Linked DNA regions of Homo sapiens. The protein of the gene in region 1 purifies or fractionates together with the protein of each later gene. This does not show direct contact. Each region holds a gene or a part of one and is shown on either strand. Other genes may lie near its edges.

What was found. Proteins that work in one complex are often made in the same cells at the same time.
Region 2: the proteins of DOCK1 (region 1) and CHN1 purify together in Homo sapiens (affinity purification with mass spectrometry, with the first as the bait; one large-scale study listed by BioGRID). This does not show direct contact.
Region 3: the proteins of DOCK1 (region 1) and ACVR1 purify together in Homo sapiens (co-immunoprecipitation; one large-scale study listed by IntAct). This does not show direct contact.
Region 4: the proteins of DOCK1 (region 1) and POMGNT2 purify together in Homo sapiens (co-immunoprecipitation; one large-scale study listed by IntAct). This does not show direct contact.

What each region holds. Positions count from the first base shown.
Region 1 is NC_000010.11:126,995,928-126,999,427, reverse strand, and holds part of DOCK1 (dedicator of cytokinesis protein 1), read right to left. Parts: intron 2,681-3,500; coding exon 2,545-2,680; intron 1,337-2,544; coding exon 1,179-1,336; intron 75-1,178; coding exon 1-74. UniProt on the Homo sapiens protein: Involved in cytoskeletal rearrangements required for phagocytosis of apoptotic cells and cell motility. Along with DOCK1, mediates CRK/CRKL regulation of epithelial and endothelial cell spreading and migration on type IV collagen.
Region 2 is NC_000002.12:174,876,382-174,879,881, forward strand, and holds part of CHN1 (N-chimaerin), read right to left. Parts: intron 1,748-3,500; coding exon 1,459-1,747; intron 1-1,458. UniProt on the Homo sapiens protein: GTPase-activating protein for p21-rac and a phorbol ester receptor. Involved in the assembly of neuronal locomotor circuits as a direct effector of EPHA4 in axon guidance.
Region 3 is NC_000002.12:157,775,331-157,778,830, forward strand, and holds part of ACVR1 (activin receptor type-1 precursor), read right to left. Parts: intron 3,013-3,500; coding exon 2,801-3,012; intron 1-2,800. UniProt on the Homo sapiens protein: Bone morphogenetic protein (BMP) type I receptor that is involved in a wide variety of biological processes, including bone, heart, cartilage, nervous, and reproductive system development and regulation.
Region 4 is NC_000003.12:43,099,580-43,103,079, forward strand, and holds part of POMGNT2 (protein O-linked-mannose beta-1,4-N-acetylglucosaminyltransferase 2), read right to left. Parts: intron 1-3,500. UniProt on the Homo sapiens protein: O-linked mannose beta-1,4-N-acetylglucosaminyltransferase that transfers UDP-N-acetyl-D-glucosamine to the 4-position of the mannose to generate N-acetyl-D-glucosamine-beta-1,4-O-D-mannosylprotein.

The sequences.
Region 1 (3,500 bases):
CGGCTCGCAAATTATGTAATCTGTCTATGTCTTTAGGTAATCCTGAACTGGACCAGCGAACCAGGTAGTTCTCACTTGAAAAATGGAGAAATAAAAGCAAGTTAATTTTCCAAATAACAGGGTACCAAATGTACATCCACATTGCTTCATAATTAATACCATGTACGTGCACTATACAGACAACTATTGAGTTTATAAATATCAAAAGTATCACATACAGCTACTCATCAATTAACATCCACAGCACAAAAACCTTGCCAAGTTTTAATGTGCAATGTCTTGGGTTGTCACTGTAATAGAACTACTTGCAAATGGTATTTCTAAGTTGGTTTTTTTTTTAAGAGCCTATTTGTTCATTTAGAATGACAATACTATAAAATTCAGCACAATGCATGTTTATTTCAAAACCTATGACAAACCAAATACATTGTAAAATAAAAACTGCATCCTATGTCAAGAGGAAACAAAGTCTTTATCAGAAGTGAGAATAAAATCCACTCGTATTTTTCTGTATCATTCATACACTAAGTTTTCAAATTTTGAATAATACAAGTGAAGATACTAGAGTTTTAACATATACACAGACACACACATAATTCATACATAGTTGAACCACATTGTTTCCATCTGGGCAAAGAGAAAGTTATACTGAAGGCTAAGCAGGAAAAAATAGACTTACAGTGTTTTCATTTAACAAATATTAACTGACAGTCTGTATGTGGCAGGCACCATTCTAAATGATGTATTCCAGCCAATCATCTTGCAGAAAAAACAAGACAAAACTCACAGAAATGGCATTCATAGAAACCAAATTTTGAAAAATGGAAATAGTGATATTTGAGGGACCAGGATATATAAAATCTTACGAAGACAACTTAGGAAACAAAGTATTACTTCAATCTTCAGCTACACTCTTAAGATACGGCCAGAGTGTACCTGCAACTGCTATAACTCTACGAGCAAATAGCAATCTACACGCAAGAAGGTTCACCCTGACCCAGAGCCCAACCTGGCTGCCATCACACTGTCTAAGACAGCTCTTGACTCGGCTGCTTGCTCGTGTCCAGCAGCCATTCATCCAAGGCCTCTCAGCATGAATGGGACGCTTCAGTGGTTCTGATCCCAAGTTCCTAACACTAACCAAAGAGGAAAGACGGCAGCCAAGAAATGTCACCCACCTGATGAATTTGGACTCCACAGGGTCATATAGAGACATGAGGACTTCAGCATCTTCTCCTATTTTACAAACCACATTTTTGAGGTTCACAAACAAGGCCAGAGAAGGGGTTGCAGCAAACTTGGCTTGTCTGTTAATATCTATGTTCTGCTTTTGAGACTGTGTATGGAAGGAAACAGAAAGTCAACCCCAGCAACACTCATCACTGACACTTGCTTTCTTTATTCCCTACAGAATAGAAAATTGTAATAACTCATTGGCATAACCCAGCAAAGGCCTTGGTGCAGTCACTTTCTTATCTCCCCTGCACATTCTTAAATCATGCATTCACACAACAGACAAAAAATTGTATCCTGTGCAACTGCTGTGCTGAGTATTTTCAGAGATACAAAACTTTCAGGTGTCCATCCAATAAATCAAAATAATGATTATATATGTGTAGTTATTTAATTTTTTGTTCCCTCATTAGACTAAACCCTCCAAGGACATCTGTCTCATGTATCATTATGTCTTCAACATTTGGTACACAGTAGATGCTCAGTAAGTACTTGTTGAATTAACAGATGATTCAATTAGTCAATTTCTGAGTATCTACTGTGTGTGTGTGTATATATATATACTGGTGGGAGGTGACTGGATCATGGGGTGGATTTTTCATGAATGGTTTAGCACCATCCTCTCAGTGCTGTCCTCATGATGGTGAGCTCTCACAAGATCTCGTCGTTTAAAAGTGTAGCGTGTAGCACCCCCCCGCACACCCTCTCTCTTCCTCCTGCTCTAGCCATGTGAAGTGTTGGCTCCCACTTCGCCTTCCACCATAATTATAAGATTCCTGAGGCCTCCCCAGAAGCAGAAGCCACTATCCTTCCTATACAGTCTGCAGAACCATGAACCAATTAAACCTCTTTTCTTTATAAATTACCCAGTCTCAGGCACTTCTTTATAGTAAGGCGAGAACAGGCTAATGCATACATGATACCATTAAAGATCATAGAAGACGAAAAGACAATAAGACATGTACTCTCTGCCCTCAATGAGCTTGGAATACATGACCTGCCTACCATTATCCGAGAGGAAATGCAGAATCAAGTCTTGTGTCTCATTTGACAGATGAGAACACAAAATCAACATCATTAGGATCCTGTCTCCTACGATGAAACACAATGCTGTCCGACCCCCTTTCATGTCATGGGTGACATCCTGTGCCACCAGGCTCCATTCCACTCATGACTGTAGGACACAAACTCTGCAGCTACTCCTTTTCAGGTTCTTTCTTAGTGACAATTTTGGGCTTGACTGATACTTTACTAATGTTGAAAACTTATTACTGAGAAAACGTGAATGGCATATGACAGAGTCAAACTTACTTTTTCCTCTTGTAACCTTTCCTCCACTTGTTTAGAAGCTATTTCATGAGCTCTGAAGAGACTAATCGTGCTAGTTAATTCTGGATCCAAAATATTCCCATCTTCATCTCTAACCACCAGGTCCAAATCTAGAATTCTAGAACAACAAGAATTTAGTAAGTTCACAGACATAGACCAAGGAGGCTGAATTTTCTAGCACAACTTCCACCACAGCAACTGGGCAGGTAAAAACAACCTAGAAACTCGGGCTTGCCCAAAATATTAGGAATATAAAATTCTTGGAGGCTGCTTTCTTTAGCTTAAAATGTGTCATCTTGGGAGAAGTAAAAAAAAAAAAAAAAAAAAAAATCCTCAATTTTTATTTCCATTGCAATCAACAGTGGCTTTGTCTTGCAAGGAGAAGTTTTACAGATCTACAAGGCCCAAGTGAAGTATGTATTACTAATTATTATGTAAAATATGAAAAGTTTTAAGGCATACTTTTTTTTTTTTTTTTTTTTTTTTTGAGACAGTCTCGTTCTTGTTGCCCATACTGGAGTGCAGTGGTGCGATCTCGGCTCACTGCAACCTCCATCTCCCGGGTTCAAGCAATTCTCCTGCCTCAGCCTCCCGAGTAGCTGGGGTTACAGGTGTGTGCCACCACACCCGGCTAATTTTTGTATTTTTAGTAGAGATGAGGTTTTGCCATGTTAGCCAGGCTGGTCTCAACTCCTGACCTCAGGTGATCTGCCCACCTCAGCCTCCCAAAGTGCTGGGATTACAGGCGTGAGCCACTGCACCCCACCTAAGGCATACTACATATGTACACACACACACACATTCACATATATATGCAATCACATATACATCCATCAACCCAAACACATAGCTGGCAGTTGTGACATCATCAGAGAGTTGAGGAAGGAGAGAGGGAAGAAAACTTGGAGGAGAGATCTATCCACCACCTTTTTACTCCC
Region 2 (3,500 bases), on another chromosome or scaffold:
GCAAAGAATATAATGTCAGTATTATTCAAATACAAGCATTACTAAAAAATGCCATAAATGGAAAATCAACCAATAGTCAGAAAATGGGAACTAGACCATGAAAAGAATATTAAATACAGCAGGTATTAAGGATTTTAAGTTCTGGCTACTTCCAAACAAGATTTGTGGTTCCTAACAATATGAATATATAAAAAAACAATTTTTATACATTTTCTACAGCTTATCCTTTTAAATGTTGTTTTCTCCGTAGCAACAAAATGCCAATGTAAGATCTGCCAAAAACTAAAATTTGAGCTGGACACAAACTTTCTTATTTCCATTCTGTACCCAAATACTCTAAGGTAATGGGAAGTTATTTGAGGATGCTGCCTTGAGGTCAGATGGCTGCTATATAATAACATTACCACCAAACTACATTGAGTGTCTACATGTGCCAAGTGCTGATGGAGCATTTTACGCTTGCTATCTCACTCACTCCTCACAGCAATTTGACCATTATTACAATTTTACAAATAAGACAATCAAAAGCACAGACAAATTAGGTATTACAACTTGCACACAAATCTTGCATAGAATCCGAGCTCAAGACCTATTGCATTTCTTTGGTTTAGCAATTGAAGATTCTTAAAAACATAAAAATGAATTGACACAGTTCCAATTACAATACCTAAAATGCCCCCAACTAAATGTCACACACTATAAAACATCAGGAAAATCTCTTACTTTTTTCTTGGGGGTGAGGAGGAGGCTGGTGGCAATTTTCAAAAGTAAAATAATCTTAATGCCAAGAAATTAAAACTTTTATGTTAACCTGAAATATATCACAACTAAAATATGACAGCTAAAAAACTTAAATTGTCTTTTAGAATTAATTGTCTTTTATAATTAAGGAAAAGTAAAAGTGAATCTTACTCATTCAATTACTTCTTAACAGATTATAAAGAGATAAATCCTCCTCCTATTCAAGAATGACTGACTCCCAAAATGTGTGTGTATACATACACACACACATAATATACACACACACATAAAATCTTGCTAAGAACACAACTATTTATAAAGTAAATTATCTTTAAGGAAAACAAAAAAGTAATTTTGAGAGATAATGCAACCCCCTCAATTACTTACGTAATAGTAGCTATCTTTTCTTGACCAGGAGTTATGCTTCTGACCAATCCCCTGAACTATTTTTTATTAGGGGCCATTTTTCCAACATAGTTTTAAAATTGTGAAACTGATAAAACAGAAAACAACCAGGAATATAAAAATTTACCTAACATATTTTAATAGAACAAGAATTAGTTATATGCAAAGCTCAGCATCACAGAAACTAGACATTAAGAAAAATGAATATACTTTCCAAAGCACTGTGGATAAATCAATCTCTTCTGGCAATAATGGCTTTCTTAAAAGAACCCCAAACAGAAAAAGATAAAGTGTGGTTTCATAGTAGCTTACCCTTTTCTCTGACACCCCATCCTGGCCTGTAGAATCTCTCTCATCATGTGTCTCTTTCAGGACTGGCATATGTTTTTTGTATGCTGGCTCTCTGTTTAAGGTTGTGTATCCTACGTGCTCATAAATTGGGTTTATCGTCATCTTGGCAATGTATTCTGCTGCCTTGGTTTCAATATAGAGAGTAATCAAGCCATCAGTCACCAGATCGTGGATGGACTCAAAGCGTTTCTCCCCAACAAAGTGCTTGCCATCGTAGTAGAGCCTGAAGTTTCTGGTTTGACTTCCAAATCTGCCTCAATGAAATGGGAAAGATGTTTTTAAGAAAAGTAAGCAACTGAATTCTTTCTGAAAAAAAAACAAAAACAAAAAAAAACTATCGCTTTGTTTTGTGTGTGTCTTCTTTGTTTAAATAAGCTGTGGCTAATCTCTCTGAATCGTCTGGAATATATAAAATTAAACCTTTGAACACAAAGAATGAGCTTGCAATAATTAGGGACAACTAGTCAAAAGCATGCCTACCATAGAAATAATTTTTTTTATTTATCTTTTTAAACCACTTTATTATACCTGTGGAAAAAATGGGAGAAAATAAACCTCACACCACATTAAAACATAGTCAATATTCAATTGGCCAACTCCATAATAGATGACATTTCTATACTAACATTTTTTCTTCAAGTTGATCAATAAGAATATTCAATGTACTTTAGACCTCAGCAGTCATGTATTTTAATAGGAAAGCTCCATTTAGGGCTAACCAGAATATGATGCCAGCAATCACTTAAAGTAGAGCTGACTCCAGAAACCTGAGCCATGCAGGGCAGGATGGCACAGAAACACACTTTCGCTACTTCTGGCCACAGGCCAAGGACTTATTCTTTCGTTTTTAAAGAGTCATTATTCTGTCTGCTGGTTAGGTCTGTGCAAGAAATGTTTGAAATACATACGGCACAAAAGTCATAAGCTATTGGACTATAGAAATTCTGTTTTCAATTTTATGTTCTGATGATGTGCTCTAACAACTGAAGAATAATGGTTTACTTTTATGATAATTTCAGTATTTTGCTTCCTGCAGCAGACCTCAGAAATGGATCCAATTTGGCATGATTAACATCAGTGTCCTTGCAGGAAGACACAGGCAAGAAAATGCACTGACTTTAATGAAAGCAGATGTCAAAAGGCAACAAGGCAACAAGAGCTGCCAGTGTAATGGTCTCCTGAAGGTAACCCCGAGTGAGACTAATTAAAAACTAAACAAGTCACAAAGGATATATTTAATTTCATTGTTAAAAGTACAACAGAACAGGGATGAACTAAAATACTAAAATAAACGCTGTTTAAGTAAAGCGTTAAATGGGACTATAAACTTGTTATATAACAAAATTGTTCTGGTATAGGTTATATTCCAAATGAATAGGAGTTAGGAACATCTTAATGTGGAAATAAAGTATGGAAAGGAAATAAAATATTTTTTAAAATAATAGCCAGACGATGTCTGTTTCTGTAGTTCAAATTAGACTTTAATAACAATTTAATCTAGAATCCAACGTACTATCCATGTTGGCCCTTCTAAAGCATAATTTATCCATCCTTTAGTAACAATCAAATTTTGATTTACACTTAAGTGAACTATCCATATAATTACACTTTCTTGTTCTCCATTTTCCTCTAATGTTAAAGACACATTTCTCCCAAGTATATTTTCATTATAAAGCCTAAAAAATTAGACAGGTGAAATTTCTACACCAAAGTTAAATATAAAAGTTTTTCAGTTTAATATACTGCTTTCATCATTTCCTTTTTTTCTAATATACATTATCTGCAACATGGAAAGCAACTCCATAGCTTTTATAAGACTCCTACAATAATAAACACACATAGCATTGAGTCCCTTTATATTTCGGTTGTATCAGACACATTTCAATGAGGGCTCAGACCATTTTACTCCTGCTGGGACTTACGATTTTACAGTGGGCATTTCTACAGTGGATACAGAACTTAAAAACAATCCAAGCAATGGTGTCAGTCATTTAGTACTCAAT
Region 3 (3,500 bases), on another chromosome or scaffold:
ACTCTCAGCATAAGCCAAGAAGCAGGTATCAGGCATAGATTATCTGTAATAAACAATATTGTGCCGATGGGTGATAAAGGTAGAGTTGCAGTAATATTGACTTAATATTCCCCAAAGCTCATCCTTTCCCAAACATTTTGGCTGGCCTACTAAAGCAATACATTGATTTGTGTGAATTTCATCTTCTTTCACTTCTTCTGAGCACCACTGTGAAGTACTGTTGATCGGCAAAATTACCAAAAGCTGAGCATCCAACGGAAGAAATTTAGAACCCTTAAAAACCACAAAAGGGATAATCAACAAGAAAATGAGTGTAGATGAAGCAGAGTTTCATATCTCCCTAACCATTTTCTCTCTTGCGGTTCTTTTTGCTCCTTATTCATTCATTCTTTTTCGAGAAGAATAATTCTGAAAATTAAACTAATGTGTTATTTTTTCCATAATGTATGATCCTGCTTCTAAACCCTGTTCACAGACCTAAGGAAAGAAAAATAAAAAATCAACCCAAGACTAACAAACGTATATCCCAACTCTCAGATGCCAAGCCTTCTTTTTGTTCTTTTCTTTTCTTTAGTTCAAGACAGAGTTTCACTATATTGCCCAGGCTGGTCTCTAACCCCTGGTCTCAAGTGATCTTCCCCCTTGGGCTCCCAAAGTGCTGGGACTGCAGGCATGAGCCACCATGCATGGCCAAGGCTTGTTTTTCAATGTAGACGTGCTGTTTAGTAAGGGCATGCTTTGTTGAAACATACAAATGAGCATATTGCTTAAATAAGCAAGTATGTAGACCAATAATGACAACTTGTTTTAAATAGTGTTCTTTACTGTGTTATTATATCATGATACACTGTCACATGACATGGTTGAGTTTAAAGGACTATTTTGGCATATGCTCCATTCCTCTCTCAAAATTCTAAAAGCCATTTAAACAGTAATTTATACCAGATATTCCTATTATTGCCCTTGGTAATTAGTTATGTTAGCAGCTCTGAGGAATGAAGTTCTAACTAACCTATTTTAGAATCTTGCTTTGCTAAAGCTTTGTCAGGATTCATCCTCACATCTTCTTGCTACTAACTCAATAAACTCATTTAATTTTCCTTAAAGCTTGAAATAGACTTCTAAGTATATATCTAACAAAAAAAATTGTATTTCTCTACTTTTTGAAATGAAATGTCCTTATACTGCATTCTCTTTCCCCAGTTCCACTGTACCACAGTTTAAACAGTAGGTAAATGGAAGCTACAGAAGGTTACTTCCCCCTTTTACATACCAAAAAGTGGCCCAGTGATGGATGGGGCAGGCAGTAGAATGGGATGTTTCCCAGCCCATATCAGGCACTACCAAATGTCTGTGACAACCTGCCACAGGTGGGTCCTGCAATTGTCCAGGTGTAGCATCTGTGCTACCCAGATGGTCACTGGTGAGGGGAAGTCTTCTCCAGCATAAGGGGAGCTGCAGGGCAAGTGTAACTGCAGAACTATCAGACACTTTGAAGCTTGCTGTCTAGCAGAACAAGACTTACTGCAAAATGATTTCAAATACACATGGGCAATGGCATTAAGTAAAACTGAATCACATTAGAAAGTTATTACTTTGATTGTCTTTCAATTAATCGGATTGTGACAAGGAGTCTCAAATTGGTATTGGCATGTCTCTTGCACTCACTTAACACCCACAAATCTCAAATTTTTCAGAGTAGGCATCAGACTCAGCATAATATCCATGCAGAATGTTATTATTTTTTCTTTTGCACTTTATGATAACCTTCTATTTAGAGCAAGTGATACCCTTTCCCCACTTAAAGTTCAAAGCGTCTTTAAAATGAACACTTGGTAAGCAATTTTAAAAGGTAAATAGAAGGAGATAGTCATTTTTTAATGTGATTTTATCATTTAAAAATATGCAAAAGAATAATTTTTTAATGTATAAATACAATAGTTTCTAACACTGTGCAGTCCAGCGGGTTAATCACTAGCCACACATTGCCATGAGCAAGTAAACTGTGGCTGGTGTGAATTGATATATGCTATAGGTGTAAAATACACACAAGATTTTGAAAATTTACTTCAAAAGCAAAAAGAATGTAAAATTTACATTAATAATTTTTTAATCGATTATACGTTGAAATGACAAAGATGGTATGTATTTGGTTGAATATCTGTTAAAATTAAATCTACTTTTACGAAACTTTTTGGGTTTTTTCATGTGTTTGTTTTTAAGGTGGCTACTTGAAAATTTTAAATTACATGTGATGCACATGTTTCTATTGGACAACACCGGTTTAACCAAATGACTGCACTCCACAAGAGGGCACCACAGGAGCATACAAAATTTAAAAGCTGCTTTTTTGGATGTCAAGTTTTTAAGCCTTAAATTACAGGATGCTGAAATAATCTAGAAAGGAAATTAATATTTAATATTCAGCAAAAGGTGCCTTTTTAAAGGAGCACTTTTATGGCTAAAAATAGAGTAACTGAAGACCACAAATTCCAACCCTCCAAAACTGTAGGCAACCATTCTCTGTCTCTTTTGCTTTACCCCTCAGAGAAAAGTAACTAACTACCAACACTACTAAAATAAATCCCATCCCTTATTTAAATGTCTATCTAAAATGGCTGTTCTGATATGGGAAGACTACACAGGTGCCAGCATGTGCTTGTTTAGGACATAAGTAACCAACAGCATGTGTGTACACTGTTCAGTCACTCATTACTGGTTAGCGTTTCATGCTCGAAATAAGAACGTGTCTCCAGACACCTTCCTTATGCTTGGGATTTCCTGTGGGGTCATGACTTACTGCTAAAGTGCTGTCTCCAACATTGGTGGTGATGAGCCCTTCGATAGTGCCATACTCCACGTCTCGGGGATTGAGGCGTTCTTGGTTGCGCCTTTTAAATTTTCGGAGAGCAACTCCCAGCAGGCAGGCTAAAAGACATACTGCGAACACTACAGAGAGAATAATGAGGCCAACCTCCAAGTGGAAATTCTGTGTTCCAGGGAAGGATTTTCCTGGAGTTGGAGGGAAAAGGGGGAATTAGTTGTAAGGATCACTGCTTACTTATTATTAGCATAACCAATATCCTAACAAGTAGCTCCTGATCCTGACCACACAGTCTCACAACTCACGAAGTATTAAAACTAAAACACTTCCTAATGCCTGGCCAATGGCCCAGACATTTTAACCATCATTCAATTAGACACAACTAGAATTTGAAAAAATTCCACTGAGAATCAATTGCATTAATGTATGAATGTGAGAGTGCTTTTAAAATATAAAGTACTGTACAAATCTTTGATATTACTCTCATTAACTTGGATTTGGTATGTTTCGCCATCAAGCCCTTACAGACACTGTACTATCCTTAAGAGAAAGGGCTACCTGAGCTAAAACCAAATTACCCATCTGTGGTCTCTGTCTTTAATATATCCTGGGTGTCTACTGCTGGTTTCTCACTGATTTTTTTACATCACAATTTCTGCCTAGGAACCCATTCATT
Region 4 (3,500 bases), on another chromosome or scaffold:
GGGGAGCCCAGGCTGTGGGGCAGGCACAGAAGTGCCAGGGAAGGCAGGAGATAAAGCTGCCAGGAGACCTGGGTTTCAACAGTAGAGCCCTATGGGCTCAGGTGACTACTTGCAAAGCCTTCTGCAGGGTGACGCTTTATGGCAGCCAGGTCCCTGCCAGATACCCAGGGACCCTGAGATCCCACATCAGCAAGCAGAAGGAGGTGACAGAATTAGGCTGAGTTTTCCTTTGGTCTCATTACCACCATGTCACCCTCAACTCCTCCCTTTCCTAATAATAATGATATTATCATAGCTAAGATCTACTGGCCAATCACTAGGTGCCAGATTCTTCACTTTGCAATGATAATCTTTATTTTATAGATGGTAAAAATCAAAGCTCAGAAAGGTTAGAAAGCCAAGTTTACAGAGGAAGCAATGATAAGACTAACCCAGGTAGGCTGGCTACAGGGTCTGCGATCTCCTTCTTTTTATCTGGAAATAATTTTAAATTTACAAAAAAAGTTGCATGTATAGGACAAAGAACTCTCCTACACTCTTACCCAGATTCACCAACTGCTAATTTGACATCTTTGTTTAATCATTCTCTCTATATGCAGTCAGCCCTCTATATCTGCAGGTTCTGCATATGTGACTTCAACCAACTGTGGATCAAAAATATTCAAAAAAAACTTAAAAATACAAAAAAAGTATCAATTTAAAAACAATATAGTATAACAACTATTTACATAGCATTTACATTGTATTAGGTATTATAAAGAATTTAGAGATGACTTAAAGTATACAGGAGGATTGTGTAGGTTATATGCAAATAATGACACCATTTTATAACAGGCACTTGAGCATCCTTGGATTCTGGTATCTGTGGGGGATCCCGGAACAAGTCTCCCTGAGGAGGGCAACTGTATACAAATTCTCTCTCTTTTCTGAATCATTTGTAAATAAGTTGAAGAAATCAGGCCCCTTTAGCACTCAATACTTTAGCATGTATTTTCTAAGAATGAAAACATTCTCTCACACCACAAAAATTAACGAAATGAATATTGATACTATAATGACAATGATATTATTATTAACATATGGTTTCTATTTTCTGGTCCAGAATCCAGTCCAGGATGAAGCATGGTATCCAGTTATCACCGCTCTCTAGTCCCTTCCGATCTGGGGTAGCTTCTCAGTCTATCTTCAACTTATGATCTTGACAATTTTTAAGAGTCAGGGCCAGCTATTTTCTAGTATATTCCTCAATGTCTGATGTTTTCTCATGATTAGGTTCAGGTTATGCATTTTCGTGAGGAATTAGAGTCTGTACAATTAGTCATTAATACAACCCCACCCTATGTGAGTCTTTCTGGGACACTCACCTTGGGGCAGCCAGGATGAGGAAGGACTGAGAACCCCTATACTGTGTAGGATGCTAGAAGGAGTAGGGCCACTTTACTGGAGAAAAGAAGCCCCTGCACCCATGGTGTCTTCAAATACCTGAGTTGCTGCACAAGAGTGAGGCTGCTCCTGAGGAGTGGATGCAACCCCTTCTACCTGACTGGACACACATGCATGATGGTGACACGTGCAACCCAAGCCCTAGGCACAAGTGTGGACTATGGGCACATATGATTCCCATTCTGTCCTGCCCAGCACAGCTGTGCCAGCTGCTCAGGGACCTAGAGTAAGAACTGCAAAAAGAAGTCATGGGGAGGTGGAGCTCAGCATGGTCAGTTGGAGGAAGACTTTCCTAAAGACTAGAGCTGTTTGAGCATGGAGGAATCAGCTACTTTGTAGGGCAGTGAGCCCCTGCCTGGAAGTGGTCTAGCAAAAAACAAAAACAACCCATGTGGACTACTCCACAGCGGGGATAGGGCTGGCCATGGTGTCTTCCAAAGCAGGACTCAGTGGATCCGTGGACCTGTTGTAGCAGTATCACCTGGGATCTGAGAAATGCAGAATCCTGGGCCCCACTTCAGACCTGCAGAACCAGAATCTCTCTGAGATGAGGACCCAGGAACTTGTGTCTTAATAAAGCTTCCAGGTGATTCTTGCGTGTGCACAATACTGAGGGGAACTGCTCTGAGGTTCTTCTAACATTTCACAATTTTGCGATACTCAGCAAGGCATTTCTATCTAGCCCAGGTTAAACAACTAATTCAATTGAGAATAACCCTCCCCATAAGTATCAGTAAAGGCTAAATAAATTCTGTTCCTACCTTTTGCTAAGATGATGCATAAGCCTAAGCTCTGGGACAATCTGAGAAGTCCGCCAGACTCTAAGCTCCCTTTTGAGACAAGTTGCCCCAACCCATTCCTTCCCACACAAAGTGCACCATTTGTGGTGTGGGAGTGGCAAGAAACGAGTCCAGGTCTCTTGGCCACAGCTAAATGGACTAAGGATGGAGTCTGGGTCTAAAGCAGCCACCAGTAGAGGACATAGGGAGATGGCCATCCCTGCAGGCCAGCAGAGAGGAGGTAGGTCCCCCGAGAAAGAAGCCCCTGAACAGAGCAAATTTGGACAGCATCTCCAGTTCCTTACAATGGCTACTGTGTGACTCTCTTGGAAGCTCTGGGACCCAGCACAACTGTGGCAACTCCAGATGCCACTCCAGGATGTGCCATGATTCCTGCCACAAACCTCCACTGTCAAAGGACCCCGGGGTGTGTTTCATCACTGGGTGTGGCAATACAGCAGACCAGGTCCCCAGTCCCTTCCTAAGGCTTAGCTCAGGGCTGAGGAGCAACTACACAGCAAAGAAGGGGCCTTCTCTTAGCCTTTTCAGAATGGAGAAAACAGATAAATTTGTAGCATAAGCTTGTACCAATGGCAGTCACCACTGGCAGAGTGAAAGATCTGATTCTCTTAGAGGTGCTGGAGTATGTACCAGTGCAGACATGGGAAGCCAGAGAAAACAAAAGGACTTGTCCAGGTTAACTAAGAAAAAAAGGATGTTGGCCTCTGGGTAGGGGATAAAGATGAATGGTCTCACCATCTTACTTTACTGAGCACCTACTATGCGAGAGGCGCTGTCTTAAGCCTTTTTCCTGACCTATTTCATTTAAGCCTCACCCTCCAATGCAGTACCAATATTATCCCCATTTTCTTTTAACATGAGAAAACCAAGTTTTAGTGGAGTTAAGTACCTTGCTTAAGGTCTTAAAGCTCAAGAAGGGCCACCAGGATTTGAACCTGCCTCTCACTAAGGTCTTGTTCTTAGTACCGTGCTCATCTGTCATCAGACTTGGAGGAACACTCAATGGCAGATAAGCAGAGTAGACTGTAGAGCAGTGAGTTTTTATTAGTCAAGGGCAGAGCAGGTGTGGTGGCCCTGGAAATGTAGAACCACAGGCCCTGGACTGTAACTTAGCAACCCAAGGCTTCTTGCTGTAATTCCTCCCCACCCAGCCAGGCAGAGGGTACCCAGCTGTGACAGGTGGCTTAGGGAGCTGTGGCCATTCTCTCACCCTAAGGAGAGTCTAAGTAACATACTAGTGTGATAATTTATCCCATG